Homo sapiens: one gene and its partner. The protein of the gene in region 2 interacts with the protein of the main gene of each other region in a biochemical or structural test. Each region holds a gene or a part of one and is shown on either strand. Other genes may lie near its edges.

Region 1 (11,243 bases), on a different chromosome or scaffold from region 2:
CTATCCCAGACTGAGATGGCAGAAATACCTCAGCAGGTTTAGGAAGAGGCAGTTGGCTATAGTTGGTGGCCACAGCACAGATGCAGAAATACCTCAGCAGGTTTGGGAACAGGCAGTTGGCTGTAGTTGGTGGCCACAGCAGAGATGCTCAAAGGTTGGCGGGACTCTGAGTGCTCTTGGGTCTAGAGTCTCAACCTGCTTTGCCTTTGCAATCAGCTCCCCCCGTGGAGGGACCTGGAACAAATCCATGTGCAGTAAGCCAAGGAGTGGCCCTAGCAGTAGGGAGATGGATGTAGGATATTCTCGAAGCCCGCTCTGCGGCAAGCCAAACCCATGTTTAAAGTGGACCACATACTTACACTGAGCAAACCGAGAAGCTCTCCTGAGTGCAGGGTGGCTCTGGTCAGGCAATGGGCATGAGGAGGAAGACGGGGCTTCCAGGAGTTCTCCTAAGTAACAAAAAAATTAACAGAGGAAAGTCCCATCAGAAAAAGGCAAACTGAAGGTCTCCAAACATCATGGTCAAGGCACATGGCTGGCTTGTCTTCTTATCATCTACACATTTTTCAGTGTCAGGACTGGATCAGGCAGAGGCAGTGTGCCTGCAGCCCAGGTATGTGCACCTCCATGTTCTCACTGTGGACTTTTCACTCTTTCTTCACTAAGCTCTCAGCTCCTTGCTAGCAAAGATCTTGTTCATCTATATGTTCTAAGCACCAAGCCCCATGCCAGTCCCATAGATAGAAGGTGTTTTATGCACACTCATGAAATAAAATCAACTAATACAGTTCCAGGGGATTGCAGCACCCTAACACCTAGAATATCCAGGACCCCCAAGTCAATGTTTTAAACTGTTGTTACATAAACTGGGTAACATGAGTTGGGGTGAGATTCATCACCATTGCTGACACCTCCTAATTCCCTCTCGATGTGCTAAAGTTTAATTATTAACTTAAAGCAGTCATGTGTGCTAGAGTGCAATGACCACGTCAGGCAGATGATAAGTAAGGGAAGTCCTAGAGTGCAGACTTTGAAGGCAAAATCTTGTCCTACTTGTATCTTGAAGTGACAGCAGCTGCAGTGAATCTAAGACTCCACCTGAGAAGAGATGAAAGACCTTGTCTAGGGTGTGCCTGTGGTAACTTAGGTCATGAGAGCAAGAGAGCTGCCTGTAAAGAGGCCAGTCTCAAAATTCAACTCGGAACTGAAGCAATCCCTGTGTCCAGAGACAGAAAAATGGATAAAGAAATGTGATATATACATACAATGGAATATTATTTAGCCTTAAAAAGTAACGAATACTGCCTGGGCGCAGTGGTTCACACCTGTAATCCCAGCACTTTGGGAGGCCAAGACAGGCAGATCACAAGGTCAGGAGTTCAAGACCAGCCTGGCCAATATGGTGAAACCCCATCTCTACTAAAAATACAAAAATTAGCTGCGTGTGGTGACACATGGCTGTAATCCCAGCTACTTGGGAAGCTGAGGCAGGAGAATCACTTGAACCTGGGAGGCGGAGTTTGCAGTCAGCCGAGATCGCACCACTGACTCCAGCCTGGGAAACAGAGTGAGACTCCATCTCAAAAAAAAAAAAAAAAAAAAGTAATGAATTCTGCCTGGGCGTGGTGGCTCACGCCTGTAATCCCAATACTTTGGGAGGCTGAGGCGGGCGGATCACCTGAGGTCAGGAGTTCGAGACCTGCCTGGCCAACATGGCGAAACCCCATCTCTACTAAAAAATACACACACACACACACACACACAAAACTAGTCAGGGGTGGTAGCACATGCCTGTAATCCCAGCTACTACTAGGGAGGCAGAGGTGGGAGAATTGCTTGAACCCGGGAGGCAGAGGTTGCGGTGAGCCAAGATCGCACCACTGCACTCCAGCCTGGGTGACAGAGCAAGACTCCGTCTCAAAAAAAAAAAAAGTAACAAATTCTGATATATGCTACAACATAGGTGAGCTTGGAGGACATTATGCTAAGTGAAATAAACCTCTCACACACTAATACTGTATGATTCCACTCACATGAGGTATCTAGAATAGTCAAATTCATAGAACAGAAAGTGGAATAGTGGTTGCCAGGTAGGAGGGGGTTGAAGGAATGTGGAATTGTTGCTTAATGGGTATAGAGTTTCAATTCTGCAACATGAAACCAGGCATGGTGGCCCATGCTTATAGTCCCAGCTAGTTAGGAGGCTGAGGCAGCAGGCTCACTTGAGGCCAGGAGGAGTTCCAGACCAGCCTGGGCAACATAATGAGACCCTGTCTCTACAAAACAATTCTTTTTTTTTTTTTGAGACTGAGTCTCGCTCTGTCGCCCAGGCTGGAGTGCGATGGCGCAATCTCAGCTCACTGCAAGCTCCACCTCCCGGGTTCACGCCATTCTCCTGCCTCAGCCTCCTGAGTAGCTGGGACTACAGGCGCCCACCACCACACCCAGCTAATTTTTTTGTATTTTTAGTAGAGACGGGGTTTCACCGTGTTAGCCAGGATGATCTCGATCTCCTGACCTAGTGATCCACCCGCCTCGGCCTCCCAAAGTGCTATGATTACAGGCGTAAGCCACTGTCCCGGCCAAAACAATTCTTTAAATAGCTGAGCATGGTGGTGTGGGCCTATAGTCCTGGCTACTGGGGAGGCTGAAGCAGGAGGATTGAGGTTACAGTGAGCCATAGTTGTGCCACAGTACTCTAGCCTGGGCAACAAAGTAAGACCTGATCCTAAAAAATTAAAATTAAAGTTACAGTCCAGGCGTGGTGGCTCACACCTGTAATCCCAGCACTTTGGGAGGCCGAGACGGGTGGATCACCTGAGGCCAGGAGTTTGAGACCAGCCTGGCCAACATGGTGAAACCCTCGTCTCTACTAAAAATATAAAAAAAATTAGCCAGGTGTGGTGGTGGATGCTTGTAATGCCAGCTACTTGGGAGGCTGAGGCAGGAGAATCGCTTGAACCCAGGAGCCAGAGGTCGCAGTGAGCCGAGATCATGCCATTGCACTCCAGCCTGGGCAACAAGAGTGAAACTCTGTCTCAAAAAAAAAAATAAAATAAAATAAAGTTACAAAAAAGAAAATGATCTGGAGATTGGTTATATGATAATGTAAACATACTTAACAGTACTGAGCTCTGAGCTGCTACTTTTTTTGTTGTTGTTGCCGAGGCTGGAGTGCAGTGGCCTGATTTCGGCTCACTGCAACTTCTGCTTCCCAGGCTCAAGTGATCCTCCCACCTCAGCCTCCCAAGTAGCTGGGACTGGGACTACAGGTGTGTGCCACCATAGCAGGCTAGTTTTTGTATTTTTGGTAGAGAAGTGGGTCTCACTATGTTACCCAGGCTGCTCTTGAACTCCTGGACTCAACTGATCTGCCCACCTCAACCTCCCAAAGTGCTGGGATTACAGGCATGAGCCACTGCACCTGCCTGAGCTGCCTACTTAAAAATAGTTAAGATAGTAAATTTTATGTTGTATGTATTTTCACTACAATTTAGAAAAACACAAAATTCAGATGAATATCACTGTTCTCCTATTTTGCTGATACGATTATTACTTATTGTTAATAGGTTTTTAAAAAATGTTTGGCTGGGCACCGTGGCTCACGCCTGTAATCCAACAACTTTGGGAGGTTGAGGCAGGAGGATCGCTTGAGCCCAAGAGTGGGAGACCAGCCTGGGCAACATGGCAAAACCTCATCTCTACAAAAAGTACAAAAAATTAGCTGAGTGTGGTGGCACATGCCTGTAGTCCCAGCTACTTGGGAGTCTTAGGAAGGAAGATCACCTGAGCCTGAGAGATCGAGGCTGCAGTGATTGTGCCACTGCACTCCAGCCTGGGCAACAGAGAACCTGTGTCAAAATAAAAAAATTAATTAATTAATTAATTCAGCAGAATGCAGATTATAAACAAAAGAAAAAGAAAGGAAAAAAATTTTTTAAAAAGCATTTGCAAAACCTACTGAAGTTATTTACTTTTTTTTTTTAAATTAACACTCCCTAATACTTTTTTTATCTCTATTGATGAGAGAAATAATCTACACTTAACCATGGAAATTTTTTCCAAAGAATCATGGTTCTCCAGTTAAGAGCAACATTTTAAGCAGAGCAATATCATTAAACATGAAAATGCTATGAGATATGTCTCTAAAGTGGCACTACACAAATCTTACTTAAAATTCACTAGGGGCTCGGTATGGTGGCTCATGCCTGTAATCCCAGCACTTTGGGAGCCAAAGCACAAGGATTGCTGGAAGCTAGGAGATCAACACCAGCCTGGGCAATAAAGTGACATCCCTGTCTCTATTTAAAAAATAAATAAGGCCAAGTGCTGTGGCTCATGCCTGTAATCCCAGCACTTTGGGATGCCAAGGCAGGCAAAGGCAGGCAGATCACCTGAGGTCAGGAGTTCAAGACCAGCCCGGCCAACATGGCGAAACCCCATCTCTACTAAAAATACAAAAAGTATCCAGATGTGGTGTCGGGAGCCTATAATCCCAGCTACTCAGGAGGCTGAGGCAGGAGAATTGCTTGAACCCGGGAGGCGGAGGTTGTGGTGAGCCGAGATCGCGCCACTGCACTCCAGCCTGGGCAACAGAGTGAGACTCTGTCTCAAAATTAATAATAATAATAATAATAATAATAATAATAAACAAATAAAACAAAATGCACTAGGATACATGCTGAGATATACTTGAAGTGAGTCAAAGATTTAAATGTAAAACATGAAACCAAAGATTTAAATGTAAACTGTGTAAGTACAAACACACACATATACCTGAGAAAATTCCTTTCTAAACTTCAGGGGGTTGAGTTTTCTAACTAAAACTTAAAATCTACAATGCATAAAAGAAAAAATGAACAAAATTTACTACATGAAAATAGAAGCAAGACCTCTTCTCCACAAAAAAAATAAACAAAAAATTAACTGAGTGTGGTAGCGCCACCTTGCAGTCCCACCTACTCAAGCAGCTAAGGTGAACTAATTGCTGGAGCCCAGGAGTTCCAGGCCAGCCTAGGAAACATAGCAAAACTCTGTCTCTACCCAAAAATACAAGAATTAGCCAGGTGCGGTGACACGCACCTGCAGTCCCAGCTACTCAGGAGGCTAAGGAGGGAGGATCACTTGAGCCTGGGAGGTCAAGGCTGGGGTGAGCCATGATCGCACCACTGCACTCCACCCTGGGAAACAAAGTAAGACCTTGTCTCAAAAAATAAAAAAGAAACATTTAGAGACCAGGAATTGCCACAGCACTCTAGTCAACCAGTCTAGGCAACAGAACAAGACTCTGTCTATTGTCTCTAAAAAAAAAAAAAAAAATTGAGGCCAGACATGGTGGTTCACACCTGTAATCCCAGCAATTTGGCAGGCAGAGACAGAAGGATTGCTTGAGCCTAAGAGTTTGAGACCAGCCTGGGCAAAACAGTGAGATTTCATCTCTATAAAAAATTATGTAAAGGCCGAGCGCAGTGGCTTACTCCTGTGTAATCCCAGCAGATTGGGAAGCCAAGGCAGGTGGATCACCTGAGGTCAAGAGTTTGAGACCAGCCTGACCAACATGGGGAAACCCTGTCTCTGCTAAAAATACAAAAATTAGCCAGGTGTGGTGGCACAGGCTTGTAATCCCAGCTACTTGGGAGGCTGAGGCAGGAGAATCACTTGAACCCAGGAGACAGATATTACAGTGAGCCAGATCACACCTTTGTACTCCAGCCTGGGCAACAAGAACGAAACTGCTTCTCAAAAAAAAAAAAAAATTACATAAATTTAAAAATGTCTATATGGCATTATAAAACCCATAAAAGATAAATAAAAAGACAAATGACATATTAAGGAACAAAATTTGCAATTCATATAACAGACAAAAGTTTAATCTCTTTAATTTACAAAGAGCTCCTAAATGTCAATTTTTAAAAGACCAATAACACAAGATATGAAAGACAATTCATGGAGAAACACAAATTAAAAGTGTAGTATAGGCCGGGCACGGTGGCTCACCCCTGTAATCCCAGCACTTTGGGAGACCGAGGCAAGCAGATCACCTGAGGTCAGGAGTCTGAGACCAGCCTGACCAACATGGTGAAACCCCATCTCTAAAAGTACAAAAATTAGTGAGGCCTGGTGGCAGGTGCCTGTAATCCCAACTACTCAGGAGGCTGAGGCAGGAGAATCACTTGAACCTGGGAGACGGAGATTGCAGTGTGCCGAGATCGGGCCACTGCACTCCAACCTGGACAACAAGAGCGAGACTCAGTCTCAAAAAAAAAAAAAAAGAAAGAGAAAGAGAAAAAAAACGCGCAGTATACTCTCACGTCAATGTATTTTCTTGAGTCAGAGTTTCATTCTTGTTGCCCAGGCTGGAGGACAATGGCACGGTCTTGGCTCACTACAACCTCTGCCTCCCGGGTTCAAGCAATTCACCTGCCTCAACCTCCCACGTAACTGGGATTACGGGCACCCACCACCAAGACTGGCTAATTTCACATCAATATTTTGACCCATGAGATTGGTTTAAAAAAAAAGACAAATGTTTGACAACATACTCAGTTGGCAGGTTGGGGACACACACTTCTTCTGTGGGAGTGAAGACTGGTATAACCCAACTGGAGGGTGATTTGGCAATGTATATCAAAATGACAAATGAATTTACCCTATGACCCAGCAACCTTCACTGGCAATTTGAGCTACAAATATATCTACACCCATATGAAACAATGTACATACACAGTTATTGATTTTAGCATTATTTGTCATTGTAAACAATTGGAAACAATCACGTATTCATCTGCAGAGGATGGAGTAAATAAATGTTGGCATACCCAGATATTGGAATACTGAGCAACTGTAAGAGAAAATGCCCTAGGTACTAACAAAAGCAAGGAAAAATGTCCTAACTACTGTACTATAAAATAAAGATGTATAAAGTAAAAGACAAAAGCAAAATGCAGGACAATGTATATAATGTGCTATCTTTTGTGTATTAAAAAAAGATTGGGAGAAATAAAAATATAAATTCATATTCGCTGACATTTGCATAAATAAATTCTGAACAGACACTCAAAAAAACGGTAATAAAAGTGGTGCACTGAGAAGAGAGAATGGGGCAATTGGCAAGGATGGAAGAGAGACTGGGCAGTATGCCCTTTTTATACTGTTTTTGTTTGTTTGTTTGTTTGTTTTGAGATGGTGTTTCGCTCATCACCCACACTGGAGTGCAGTGGCTCACTGCAACCTCTGCCTCCCGGGTTCAAGCAATTTTCCTGCCTAAGCCTCTGGAGTAGCTGGCACTACTGGAGTGTGCCACCACGCCCGGCTAATTTTTTGTATTTTTAGTAGAGACGGGGTTTCACCATGTTGGCCAGGCTGCTCTCGAACTCCTGACCTCAGGTGATCCACCCTCCTTGGCCTCACAAAGTGCTGGGATTACAGGCATGAGCCACCGCGCCCAGCCCTGTTTTGATTTTTGAATATGAAATTTTAAATTTAACCCCCCAAAATTTAAAAATTGATCTTAAATTTGTATAAATAAAATCACTAAGGAACCCAACCTAAGTTTAGAAGCACACAGAATACAAAGGTGCTTCTTTCTCAGATAATTTTTGGAACAATAAACTGCTCTCTAATTGTTTTCCTAAAGAAACTTTTTCCAAGGAATCATGCTTCTCCACTTACATAAGAAATGATTCTTTTTTTTTTTTTTTTTTTTTGAGACAGAGTTTCACTCTTGTTGCCCAGGCTGGAGTGCAATGGTGCAACCTCTGCTTCCCAGGTTCAAGTGATTCTTGTGCCTCTGCCTCCTGAGTAGCTGGGATTATAGGCACCCACCACCATGCCCAGTTAATTTTTGTGTTTTTAATAGAGACAGGGTTTCGCCAGGTTGACCAGGCTGGTCTTGAACTCTTGACCTCAGGTGATCCACACGCCTCGGCCTCCCAAAGTGCTGGGATTACAGGCATAAGCCACTGCACTGGCCAGAAATGATTTTTTAAGTAGCATAAGATTGTTTAAATATGAAAATATAAAGGATATAAAAGCTATCAGAAGAGGAAAAGCTACAGAAGAAATGCCTCTAAAGCATATGAAGATAGCAGTGGCCAGAGCAGGAGGAAGAACCCTGGGAGACCAGACAGAGCTAACGTCTAATGTCTGACAGGAAGGTGTTAGTTATTTTTCAATAACTCTGGAAGAACAACAGAGAAACTACAGGATCAGGACAGAAAGGTTCTTTTCTATATGGTACTGTTTAATATTAACATTAACACACTCCCCAGAGATTATATTTTAATAGACTGTATCAAGAACTAGTTACAAAGTGGCATGCTGGTTTTGTTTGTAGACAAGATCTCCCTCTGTTGCCCAGGATGCAATGCAGTGGCATGATCACTCAGCCTTGAACCCGTGGCTCAAGTGATCCTCTAGCCTCAGCCTACAGAGTAGCTGGGACTACAGGTGTGCACCACCACATCTGGTTACTTTTTATTTTTTGTAGAGACAGGATCTCTCTCTGTAGTCCAGGCTGGTCTTGAACTCCTGGCCTCAAGAGATCCTCTCACCTCAGCCTCCCAAAGCACTGGGATTACAGGCGTGAGCCACTGCACTTGGCCTATATGCTTTGTTAAGAAAGACATTTACAGCCAGGTGCAGTGGCTCACGCCTGTAATCCCAACACTTTGGGAGGCTGAGGTGAGCCTTGCAGTCAGGAGTTTGAGACCAGTCTGTCCAACATGGTGAAACTCTGTCTCTACTTAAAAAAAAAAAAAAAAAAAAGAAAGAAAGAAAAGAAAAAAAAAACCAACGCAAAAATTAGCCAGGCGTGGTGGCGCACGCCTGTAATTCTGGCCAAGATCGCACCACTGCACTCCAGCCTGGGTGACGGAGTGAGACTCTGTCTCAAAATAAAACAAAAACAAAACAAAATTATTAAAAAAAAAAAAAAGAAGAAGACATTTACTAGTTAAAAATTTAAGGCCAGGCACGGTGGCTCACGCCTGTAATCCCAACACTTTGGGAGGCCAAGGCGGGCAGATCACAAGGTCAGGAGATTGAGACCATCCTCGTTAACATGGTGAAACCCCGTCTCTATCAAAAACACAAAAAATTAGCCAGCATGGTGGCGGGCACCTGTAGTCCCAGCTACTGGGGAGGCTGAGGCAGGAGAATGGCATGAACCCAGGAGGCAGAGCTTGCAGTGAGCCCAGATGGTGCCACTGCACTCCAGCCTGGGCGACAGAGTGAGACTCCATCACAAAAAAAAAAAAAAAAAAAAAAAAAAAAATTAAAAGTGGCCTATTTCAGAATCTCTGCAGTAAGATAACACACTTGATCAGTAAGGACCTGTGTGCATGGATCTTCAAAAATGAGTTTCTATCTATTAAGGACTTGTGATACATCACACCTTCAGTCATTGCCAAAAACATATTCAGCCACAAAATCACTTCAGCCCACCCCTACCTGATTCACGACACCACAGTGGTAATACAGCTGGACTCTGGGATCCTATCCCCAGAGAACAAAGCCATAGAGCACTCTGCTACTCCCCCCAACTTCCATATTTAATCCTCCTCCAATAAATAAGATCAGCTCACCCTGCATTTGTGCTTCAGGAGCCTCTTTCCAGGTGACGCTTTCTTGTAATTTTTCCTGAATTTCTTCTAGGTCATGGAGAATATCTCTGATTTTCCCTGCAGCTGTGTCGGAAGTCACCAGCTTTGGAGAAGCCATGGAAAGATCCACCCCAGAAGAAAAAGCCTATTGATAAACCATTTAAAACTGAATAAATGGAAGTCCCCTATGCAGTCTATCAACTATTATATTCAAGTTTTTCTATTCATCTATAATTTTCTATTTAATTCCCAGCAAGTTTTTAAAAACAAAATTAGGCCCTCAAAAAATATGCCTTGAAAAAAATCTGGAATAATTTGCTGTACATAGTACAGCAAAAATATCAAAGAGTGGTTATTTCTGGGTGATGGAGTTATGGAGCACTTTAATTTGCTTTATTTAATGCTATGTGCTTTCTAATATTTTGCACAATAAACATGGATTTCTTAGGTAATACCAAAAAAGTTTAACATTTCTAGGCGCATCTTATAGGGGCTTTATAAAATAAATACTACAGATAGTTACTGAGATAAACCATGGAGGTCAGAATAACCTTTTCGGCTAGGTGTGGTGGCTCACACCTGTAATCCCAGCACTTTGGAAGGCTGAGGAGGGTAGAACACCTGAAGTCAGGAATCCGAGACCAGCCTGGCCAACATGGTGAAACCCTGTCTGTACTAAAAATACAAAAATTAGCCAGGCATGATGGCAAGTGCCTGTAATCCCAACTACATGGGAGGCTGAGGCAGGACAATCACTTGAACCCGGGAGGTAGAGGTTGTACTGAGCTGAGAAGATCATGCCACTGCACTACAACCTGGGCGACAGAGCAAGACTCCATTTCACAAAAAAAAAAAAAGGAACCTTTTCCCACCTCTATCATTATATCATTTCACTTCGCAAGAGCTCCCTCTCAAATTGCCTGCATCCAGGTCCTGCTTTCTAGGGCCTTCAACACATGCTCCCTGATTTTCTTTAGCCTCAGGTCCTGTTCTTCCCCAATACAGCCCTTTATCTGCTCACCAACTTCAACCCCTTTCCTTCCCACCTTTGCATAATCCACTCCCCATTCTTTCCACCAATCAAAATACGGTAGTATTACACTTATTGAGTGTTTTCTACATGCTAGATATTGCCTTTCTCTCATTTGCATAACAACCTCACAAAGTAGGTTTATCAACCTGTAAAAAATCTCCGTTTTACAAAAGAAGATGAAATTCATGAAGGTTAACTAAATTGCCACAGTTAATTATAACATCCCACATTTTAACATTGCTCAAGCACTTTCTTATACCTCTTTTAATCCTCACAATAAACCAATGATGTGGCAGGCCCTGTATCATTATTTCTATATTACAGATAGGAACCTGAGACGCAGATAGATGAAATGACTTGCCCAAGGTCATAATACTAGTGAGTGACAATGTCAATTCTGAAAGTCAGACTCTCAGCGTTTCTATCCCAACACATCGCATCCCTAAAGATGGATTTATCCATACATTCAGTGGGTATTTGTTGAACCCCTACTGTAAGTGGGTACTTGGGTACTGTGCTAGCGCCTGGGGACACAATGGTGGACAAAAGAACAAAAGCATCAGCCAGGCAATGTGGCGCACGCCTGTAATCCCAGCACTTTGGGAGGC
Region 2 (11,243 bases):
TCTTTTAAGCCTGCCATCAAGCCACACCCACACCAACACCCTGTTACCTCTGCTGGAATCTCCAACTTAAAAGGTTAACAAAAGTAAAGTTAATGAATTATATAAACCTTGTATGTTAAAGGTAACTTAGAAAACACATATTGCATTAATGCCACAATTATTTAGAAAGCTTACAGTGTAATTTAAGAAACATTCCTCCTTTGTAAAACTGGTTTCAGTATTATTTCGACCAAAATAAAAAGTTGAAGTAGAGTCTGAATAAAGCCAGAAATAAAGGAGTGCATGCTATATGATTCCATTTATATAAAGTTCAGAATCAGTGAAAACTCATTTTTTGTTTTAGAAGTCAAGATAGTAGTGATTCCTGGGGCATGGTGACTGGAAGGGGGAGCCAGGAGCTTTTAGGATACTGGCAGTGTGCTGTCTCTTGATTTGGATTTTGTTTACATATGTGTATTCAGTTTAGGAAAATTCAGCAATCAGTACACATATGAATTTGTACTTTTCTGTATGTATGTTATGCTTCAAGGTATATAAAAAAATTAAAGTAAGTTTAAAAAATGGCAAATTCTTTTAAAAAATGTACCTGAGAAATTTAGTTTTAAAAATCTTTATGAGTAGAAACATGCATTTAAAATTATCAAGTAAAACCAAATAAGTAACAAAAAAAGGAAAGTGAATAAAATATATTCAACTGTGCTAGTGCAGCTGGAGTAGATAGCAGTCTTTTTCAGAATTTAAAAAAAGAGATATACGGAGGCTAGTTACTAACATTGGTTTAGTGCCTACTATATTTCAAGCATTGTTTTATCTACTATGCATATTTCATATCATTTGATCCCAACATTCTTATTTTCAATGGTATTATCAAGTACATATGGCCAGAATTTGTAATGCTTTCTAAATTTTACAAAATAAAGTATTGACATAATTTACTGGCCATAATGTCCAAATTGACTCTCAGTTTATTCTTATAATTCCTGAAAAATTCATCAGAAAAGCATCATTAAAGTAAATATTTCACTTCTTTACCATTGCACTGTTTTCCTAAGAAAGTAAATATGCAAGTATGCAAATTAGATAGGATTCCCATTATCATTGCCAAATGTAATTTGATAGCAACAAAATGGCTCTGTGGAATGTCAGAAAATCAATCCTGGAATTCACGAAGAAAATTAAAAAGGCTAAAACGAACTGTCATAACCCCTCCAGCTTAGTTACACATCCCTCTGCCCATGGCCCCTCACTGTCCCTTTTAACTCATATGTACAAACAATGAATAAGCTATTCCTCATGTAAATTAGAAAACTAAAAGAGGTCTAGAGGCGAGAATTCACTGTAGTGCTTTACTGCCTAACATCAATTAAAAAAAAACCTGAAACTTGTTTGCTAAAATTTTTAAATAATATTTTTCAGATGGTCAGTATAAAATAGCCTTTGCCATCTTTCTACTGAATGTAGTATTGTCAATCAATAGATATAAAACATTAAGCCCATACTTCTCTGGTTGCATCTGCAATGGCAAACTTCTTGCATGGCTCCTGTATTTGGTTTTTCAGTTGATCAAGGTTTTCTTTAACAGTTTTAATAGTAAATGCATCAAGATTGGCACATAGCTGGAAAAGAGACATTTTTCAATATTTATGCAATTATTTTTCCCTTTCACTTTATTCAACGTAGAACTCTTTTTCATGTAAAAAATATGTAGCATTAAATTGTAGCATAAATATGTGGTATAAAATTTCATGAAAGTAATATGTAGCATTGCTTGCTAAATATAGCATTTTAACATTGTTTTATTATGGATCTCATTAACCCACAATCAGCAACATTTGTCCTAATATAGGAAAAAGGAGCTTCTAAATCAAGTTGGTGTAATAACAGAGAAAAAGGTGTATTGATATTCATTCCTTAAATTCCATTTTCCAAGTGGAAAACTGACATGGAAAGAGTATAACAATTTACCATCATTGACAGAGAATGATTTTGAGATAACCATGTTACATGAGGCATATCAAAGGTCAACTTGACATCCGTGGATCATACTACCACCTTCTTCTACACATAAAGCAGGCATCTACACATAAAGCTGGGAGCATCCTTAGTCATGTTCCTTGATTATTAGATTGGAATTAGTCCTTAATCCCAGTAATAAATTATATTTTGGAGCCTATAATTGCATCTCTGAATGTTGTGTCTACTCTACATAATTTGTATTGAATTCAACTTAAAGTAAGGGACTTAAAATTCAAATGCAATTGCCTTGGTACCAAAATACTTCTTGGGCTACTCTGATTTACTTAACACTCAAGATTAACAGTAGCACTGTATGTGGTGTTACCATTAGGGGGCAGCTGACAAGCTCATCTTTAAAGATCTTCATATCCCTATTTCCCTTTAATTTGAATTACCTAGATTCCTAGAATAACATATGAAGGACAGAAAATACGCAGTTTTGAAACTCATGGAGTAAGACTTTATTATGTGTGACAACTAGAAACTTTCATAGTTTATGCATATTTCTATATCAGGTAGATCATTAAATTTAACCATAAGAGTAGATGTTCAAAAGAAGGCATTCTATTTATCTCAACTTCCCATTAATTATATCACTCTCCATCATTTTTATGATATGATTTTGTGTTATTGATATTTATTAAGGCATATTAGTATTCTGTAGAAGACTGAGTATATTTATTGTACTAAAGCAAACAGATTTCACTTAACTGATGATCACAGCACTTGAACTCAATCTTATTTAATAAGACCAAGAAGTCCTGGCATTTGTTTTAGCTTTGCTTTCATTGGTTATACATAAAATTATGACTTACTTTTAAAATGTGTTCTTCAGCTTTGGCTTGCTTCGTGGCCCCTCCAACACCAGGTGAAGCTGTTAGTCCCAGTATCTGAGGAAGGGGAATCACTGGTTTGTTTTCTTTCTTGAGTCTATTGTTTTTCAACTTCTGCATCAAATAATGCCTCATGATGTTATTATACACTGCTTCTTTGTTGGTGTGATGACATTCATCAATGATAATGAGGGAAAAGTCTTAAAAGAAAATTCAAAGAGTTCATTTCTCCATATCAGCACACTACAGTGAGAAAATAGCTTTAGACCAGTAATTGAGCTGCCTTGGGGATGCCTTCTCTTGGGCACGACACAAGAGCAGTCCACTTTCAGTTTTTAGGAGGGAAATCTAACTATACTAGCACCTGTACACACAGACGTTCGTATATACTAATCATGAAACTCCCTGTTAGACATTCTCCTTCTTTAATAGATAAGATTCAGAAAGTTTACAGAGCTAAAAAGCGTTAGATGTGGAATTCACACCCTGGCTTATTACAAAACAAATCTCAGGATTTTACTTTTGTTCTTTAATAAAATATTTAATTTTAGGTTGGTGAATTTTATTTTTATTACATCAAGTGAAAAACACACTATTTAAAGAGGGAAAATTTTGCCTTGTTTTAACATTGCATTTAGTTATTATAAATTATTTTTATTTTTTTCCATTCTTTCTCCTACCTTCTCATCCTATACCCCATAAAAGACAAGATTTGTATTTTTATTCTATGGGAAAGGGAAGCAGATCTAACAACATTCAATAGCAAATAAAGGAACTTGTCAGAATAAATGGAAAGTCCAGCGAGTGCTTGCCTTAATAATGGTATTCTTATGCAGAATAAAGTGGTCTAATTAAAAACTTACTTTTTTTGTTTCCTCCAGGAAGTAGAAGGATTTTAATAAAACCATAAGCAATAAAAGACAATTTAAGCCACGAACATTTAAAAAATTAACAAATACAGCCTTTGTTATCATCAATATTACTATTAATTTTTTTAAAAAAATAAACACTTAAACTGACCTGACAATTGAACACCAGCATCTTCTCCATTTTCCAAGTTTAAGAGGGAGTTTTCAAGGATTTGAGCTGTACTGATAATAATATCACAGGACTTGACAACTTCTGGAAATGATATTTTCAGTTGGGTATCACCACTTAATCCAATAACACGATACCATTTCTTCAAAAATGGTTGGAACTCCTTGCGGAAGAGCTGTTCAACTAGCAGTACCTTAAAAAAATGTGAAGATTTTTTAAAAGAGAGAAAGTTAGTCGAAGCCAAAAGAGTGTTGATCAAAGGCCTGTTTGGCATCCAGCATGAAAAGAGGTGTTTACATTATCAGTGAATCAGGCATAACAACGTTCCCATCACTCCTTTCATTCATCTGTCAATAAGCACTGATTATACCCTTGTTAGGTGTGGGCATTTATGTCTGGGACACAAAGATATTTAACATATGGTTGACAACTCTGAGGAACTCTGTCTAGCTGATCATACAGACCAAGACTAAACAAAGCAAGACAAATTATTACAACACAATGTAATAATGCTCACCTAGAAACACACACAAAGTGACAGTTAAGAGAAGAAGCAACTGACGACTCAAAAAAGGGGAATTTGAAGGAATTTGAATCTAGTAAGCCATGAGTCAGTGAAAAGATAAACTGAAGCTAAGGTTGAATAAGAAATACATTTTTAAATTTGTAGAGCAGTGCCAGGTTATAAAGGGCTGCAAACATCAAGCAGAGTATTTTACATGTAGTATAACAGTTTACAGGATCCCTACAAGTTGTACTGTTGAAGTGATTTATTCCTGTTGTTTGTTTTGGATTAGACCAGAAGCAACAGGCCCACAGGACCGGAAGAATCAGGGAACCACAAGTGAGGAGTTAGGGCATTGACTAGGAGAACAGATGTGAAGTGAAGAAATGAGCTGCTGGAATAGCTGTGGTGGCTGAGAAAGAACAAACCCGAAAGTAGACCTGGCAAAAGAAGTGGAAACTTCGGGTCCTTCTCAGCTGATTCTGTATGTTATAACATCTGCTGAAGGTAGCTGGGTTGACACCTCAATGCTACACATTACTAGTCACTCAAAATACCTTCTGGATTAGGAGAAAAAATATAAGGCCATCTTGAAGGTCATATCCTAGGAAGATTTATGCAATGGAAGCCCAGCAGTGTACAATATGGGAAACAGAGAGTTGGCAGGAAGAGTTTCAAGGGCAAGCTTCAAAGAATGCCCATTATATTATTCACTCTCCATAATTCTACCAGAAATGCAATCAGTGGTTACCTTTCTCCTAGTCTGTAGGGTTTGTGTTATTCATCTTTTTACTTGAGGTAAGTCCCACTTAGGTGTTAAATAAGGAATGGCTGATCCCCCTGGCTAAAGGGAACAGCTACCTTATGAAGAACACTGGTTTACTTTATTATTTAGTGGAAATGATGGAGGCTTCCAAAAGTAGGTGTCTGGGGGGCTGGAAGAAGGGGTGGGGAAGAGTTAAAATGAAATCCATAAATTCTAAGGAAGCAAAGTGGACTTAAAATCAGTAATCAAGTTGGTGAGTGAAAGAACATTACCTTACCACAAGGTGGAAAGGGTAGAAAGAGTAAGAAGAGAAACTTTCATTTAGTTCTTTTTTTTTTTCAAAGTAAAGTCTCTCTAATCTACCTGTTACAAACACGCTTGAGAAGTTTAGAAAATGCAGACTCCTAAGTCCCACTCAAGAATTACTGAATCTAGGGACAATCTCTGGGGGGCAGAGGCTTGAAACCTTCACTTTAATGACATTTAAGCCTTTAAAATTTGAGAGTCACAGCTCTGCTCTTCTCTCTCTCTTCCACAAAGCCGTTCTTGAATCATTTTCTAGAAGTATTCTTTCCATTTCATTTATGCAAGACAGAAGGCTTCTGAGGAAAAGAATGGAAATTAAGTTTAGTGGAAAGAGACAGCATGATGCAGAGGGAAGAAAGCCCTGAAAACAGCTACTCCAGCCACTTACTTCTTTGTACCTTGGACAAGGTCTCAATCATCTTAATGCTCTCAATTTCCAGATTAATAAAATGAGGATAATGTTAACCTATTATAGGGTTGTGAAAATTAAATGAAATAGAGGATGCTGTATTGTCAGTACTAAAACTTCCACGATATTTCACCAATCCTTTTATTCTAGAAGGAGGGTGCAGTGGCAAAGGAAGACCAGTGGACTCAGAAGATAAAAGTTCGTGTCTCATTTCTGCTGTTTCTTGGCTGGATGATCCCTGAATTGCCAATTAAAGTCTTGAAACTTCAGTTTTCTGATGGGAAAAAATGAGAATAATAAAGACTACCTTATGGGGTTGCTGTGTAGATTTAATGAGATAATATATCTGAGAGTGCTTTATAAAGTGCAATAAAATATTAATTATCATATTATCAACATATATCTCTCATCTTTCTTCTAGACTGTATATTTCGTGAGGACAAGATCTACATTTGATTTGTCTTTAAATACACTCATGCTGAATGATTTAATTAAGAATCTCTGTATTATGGAGTGACATTGCACCACAAAATTCTGCCCATAAAAGGTGAGTCAAAAATCTTCAAAAGAAGCCGCACCTTCTGATGTACAGAACAAAAAGAAGTTGTCACAGGAGATAGCAGATGCTGGAAATCCTGATACTCGCTCTGGGTGGTGTTGACTTCCTACTGAAGGACACAGAGAAAGCCAGATGCAAGTCTGACATGGCTAATTGGGAGGTGTGTGGTCCTCTTGGAGCCTTTTCTTGAGATGTGACAGAGTGCCTGCCAAGACTAATCAAACCCAACTGCTACCCACTTCTGCTGAATCATATGGGGCTGCATTGCAGCATCTGAAGGAACCTGGGATTTATCTCTCATGATGTTGAAGCCCTAGATAGGAAATGGAAAGTCTGGGAACACAGGTGGTGTTTTCATTTCTCTCTGCATTCGAAGGCTATAACTTTGGAAAGGACGGAGGAAGGGAGATGAAAGTAAATGGTGTTAGAGAACAGGATTTCTTTTTTCTAGATCAAGGGTAACAATACCTTGTTGTTGGGCCAAACACAAGATTCAGGTTACTTAGACTTACTGGGCCAGAGGTGTTCTGACTCAATCAAAAAGAATTAAAACTGAAATTAATTTAAAATTCAAAAAGATGGTATAGTAAACAATTATGACATAGATGGAAGAATTAGTGGAGGGATTTCTAGTAATTCTAAGGAGAAAAACAATAGAAAAGCAATAAGGAATTAGAGTCAAGTCCCCAGGTGTCCACACAACAATGCAGTGAATGTGAATAATTAATGAGGATAAATTAATATTTAAACATAGCCATAAATGTGCATTCCGAAGAATCATGTAGATCCAATGCAATGAAAGATTCCTGGCTAGAATATAGCATTGAGAAGAGAAGGGAATATTATAGAAAGGAAGATGCATCAGACACATACAAAAATATGAGACTTGAAAAGATCAATAGTTAAAGAAATAAACCTAAGTATTTGAATTTAGGCTCAGAAACTGACTGCACAAAAATAAATTAAGAATGTTCTAGTTTAAGAGATTTTCAAATAAAAAGGAACTGAGGATTTTGATTCTATGACAAGGTCCAGATAAGTCTGTGGATGCCAGAGGCAAATGCGGTCATAAGCTGGGTGTCATATCTCATGTCTCCTACGCTCTGCACTGGTATGATCTTATCTGTAGTATTTTGCCCAACTCTGGACACCGCATTTAAGAGTGTCCCAGAAAAATGTCTGAAGGAGTATGAGCACTAGGAATGATGACAGGTTTAGAAACCATGTTATATGGAAAACAGTTAAAGGAACTGTGGACATTTATTCCAAGGAACAACAAAAAAAAGTAACTTAGGAGCCACATGATGCTGCCTTGTCTATGTGAAGGGCTGTCATTAGGCTGGAGAATTAGGACTTCGTGTGGTTGCAGAGGAAGGAACTCTAACCGGTGATTGTGGGATTCCAGAGAAACAGATTTGGATGAATACAAATAGGGCTTTCTAAGAGTGTCAGTGTCTTGTTAGTAGGGGGACCTCCTTGATATTAGGAAGTTACCCTGCAGAAGTGAGAGAACCACTCTGCAAAGGAAGAAAGCTGAATCTCGAAGCCCCTTTTCAACTCTATTAGCCTATGTCCCTGTGACCAGATAAGGGAAATAAAGGAAGTAGATGAATTAAAACTAACTCCTAGGTGTGGGGGCTGCATGCTTTGGAGGAGGTGGTATTACTCACAAAGAGACAGGTAAATGGGGAAGAGGAGCCTTTGGGAGGGTAGATGGTGAGGCTGAGTTTGAGAAAATGGCAGATGCTCAAATGGTTTCAAAATTATCAGTTTAAGTAGCTTTGAATCCAGTTAACTTGGTTCTTTTCTTTGGATTTGGCACTTAAAAGCCTCCCTGGTTATGTTACTTAGTTTCATGAGTTATGAAGGTGAAGAGAAAGGAGCAGGAGAAAGCTAGTATTTAAGAGTAAAAGCAGGAGTCATTACTAGGCCATATATAATCCAATTGAAATTTCAGAGCAGGGTAGTTATTATTTTGTTCATTTTGCAGATGAAGAAATTAAAGTTAGAGAAGTTACTAATTTGTCTAATTCAAAGTACCGGTAGGTAGAAATAGGATTCAAACCTATTTCATTTAAAAAAATAATATCCTGTACAAAGGGAATACATATGCAAGTCTATCGGCAAACAAATTTGAATGTGTCACCATTACCAGCAAAATAAATAAAAGTGTTTTAATAGTAAGTATACAAGTATAAAGGAGAGCTCTTTGGACTTAGCAGATGCACACAAAATGCATTTGGAACTACATGATAGGAATCATTCAAATCATGGATTCTAAGTACTGAAAAACAGGATGTAACTAAAACTTTTAGCATAATAGAAATAAAAAATAGAATATTTTACAGTCTACTGCTTTTTTTTATAAAGGAATAGATAAGAACAGAAAAAAGACTTTCTGATCAAGGAAAAGTATGCTCATTTTTATTCCATAAAATAGTAAATATTCATATCCCCAATTTGTATATTTATAAATTAATAAACTGTCATTTATCTGAATAAAGCTCAAATGACTAGATTTTGTTTTACGGTGAAGCAGACATATTTACTTATGAAGATGGCCTTCAAATACCCTAAGATATAAATTATTGAAGGAAAACTTCAGTTGCATTTAATGTAATATGTGTATATTTTATATATATATATGTATACTTCTTGAGCATTTTAAAATCTATTTAACTTGATGTAGATACCAAACCTTCACTTAATTTTATCTCCAAACCACATTATATGTATTCTGGAGAAAGAGGACTTGCCATCTTTGACTAAGGGTCAACAGCTAAAGAGAAAGTAAAAAACAATATTTGATCCTTGATTCCAGTGATATTTTGGGGTCATTCATATTCATTTGCAATGATAAATTAGCTAGTTAACCTTAAAGTATATCTGGGTAAATATAACCTGTGACCAGATAAGGGAAATAAAGGAAGCAGATGAATCAAAACTAACTCCCAGGTGTTGGGGCTACATAAGTTATAGCTATTTGGTATAATGTCCTAGTTTTATTGAAAAATTTCTATTTTCAGGTTCATCACTTAGATATTACATATACCTAAAAAAGATTAAAGATAAAATAAAGAGCTTATTTTGACATTACTCTTAATTAAACTAAACATGTGTGAGTCAATGACACAAATGCCATCATATAAAAGTTTCAGAATAATACAATGAAAATGATCAACTAGTGTTATGTGTTCTTTGAATACCTTATTGACAAGAACTATAACTTTTCCAGGCTCAGATGCTTTTTTCTTCTTGTCTAAGTGATCCTTGGCAATGTAAACAGCCACTCTGGTTTTTCCACTCCCTGTAGGGAGGCAGATGATGATATTCTTCCCTTCCAAGGCTGGCTGGGCAACTTCCATTTGGTAAGGCCTGAGCTGGAGTTCTGGCTCCGGGGATGCTCTTGCTGCCACATTCTCTTCATCTGAAGAAGGTTGAAAAGAAAAATAAGAGAAGGGACAACAAAATAACAGAGCTTAGGAAGCCTGAAACTGAACGTAGGCCTCTTGTGCTTTAAACTCCTTTTCACATGTGGTCCAAACCAATTCATTTTCTCTTTTCTGTACCAATTAATGTCTGCTCTCTGCATCTGCAGAATACAACACAGGCTCCCTCTCACAGAAGGAGTCTGGGGGTGTGGGGGTGCAGAGGGAGTCAACTAATTAAGAGGACTGGAAGGAGCAACATGGGGGAGTGTTTTCACAGAGTGGGTGAAGCCAAGGCGAATTTGTAGAAAGGGCTGTGGTGCGGGATTGGCAGGTCTAGTTGTTAAGGCATCAGACTTCCCATTTCTTTGTGGAGCCACTATGCCCTGCTTGTTTCACTTAGCCCTTCCACCTACAAAATCAAGAGGAGCTGAGAAAGTTGGAATCATTAGTCCTCCCAATTCCGTATTTCCCCTTTTTTTAATTGCAAAGAAGGTATTATGGCTGATACTATTTTCTTTCGTTTGTAGAAACTTTATCTGACAACCAAATACCAAAAAGCACACACACACACACACACACACACACACACACACACACAGACACCCTATCTATCTCAAGTTCCTTTTTCCATCTGAGGCAACTACGTTGTACAGAAGTGTTATTTAGAGAGTAGAGGAAAAAACTCTTCCTATGCTAGCCTTTAATTGGTAGGTTTTCCTTGAAAGGTAAAAATAATTTTGTTGGTTTAAACTAAATCATGACTACTTTTGCCATTTATTTGTGAATTGTTATCTTTATTACTTCCTTATGTTTATGGCTCCACATATTCCAACTTTTTCTAAAATCCAAAGTATAATATATTAAAAATATTTTCAATTAACATGGATTTTAAATTTAAAATACTGATAAAATAAGTTCTAACATAAACTTTATGTATATTAAAATAAAATTATTATAATATGTCTTGTTTTAGATAGAATATATTTTATTTAGAAGTGACCATATTGACCTATATTACCAGGGGAAAAAGATCAAAAAATGCATAGCTTATAATGTGAAATGAAGTAACATAAATATTATACCAATTTAAAAGCCCATTTTATGACTTATATAATAAGAAGAAAAAATGAAATAACAGTATTTATCCATATTTCATCACACATGAAATAACTTCTTTTTCTTATCAATGTTTGCAATAAAACTAAACTAACATAATCCCATTAACTTCAAAAAACTTGCTGATGGCTCCATTTCAGCCCCTGGATAATTCTATTTGAGTGAGTTTTAACTTGTTGTGATAGTACTATCTGAACAGGTAGGAAAATTCACACCAAATACCACTTAGGATCATCTACTAACCTGGCAGGAAATTTGCCTTTT

Evidence for each region.
Region 1: of the proteins of IFIH1 (region 2) and RNF135, one has a biochemical effect on the other in vitro, tested with the Homo sapiens proteins (one study listed by BioGRID).

What each region holds. Positions count from the first base shown.
Region 1 is NC_000017.11:30,986,448-30,997,690, reverse strand, and holds part of RNF135 (E3 ubiquitin-protein ligase RNF135), read right to left. Parts: intron 9,748-11,243; coding exon 9,585-9,747; intron 3,852-9,584; coding exon of another isoform or gene 3,787-3,851; intron 450-3,786; coding exon 360-449; intron 1-359.
Region 2 is NC_000002.12:162,278,497-162,289,739, forward strand, and holds part of IFIH1 (interferon-induced helicase C domain-containing protein 1), read right to left. Parts: intron 9,860-11,243; coding exon 9,639-9,859; intron 4,081-9,638; coding exon 3,870-4,080; intron 3,050-3,869; coding exon 2,832-3,049; intron 1,617-2,831; coding exon 1,500-1,616; intron 1-1,499.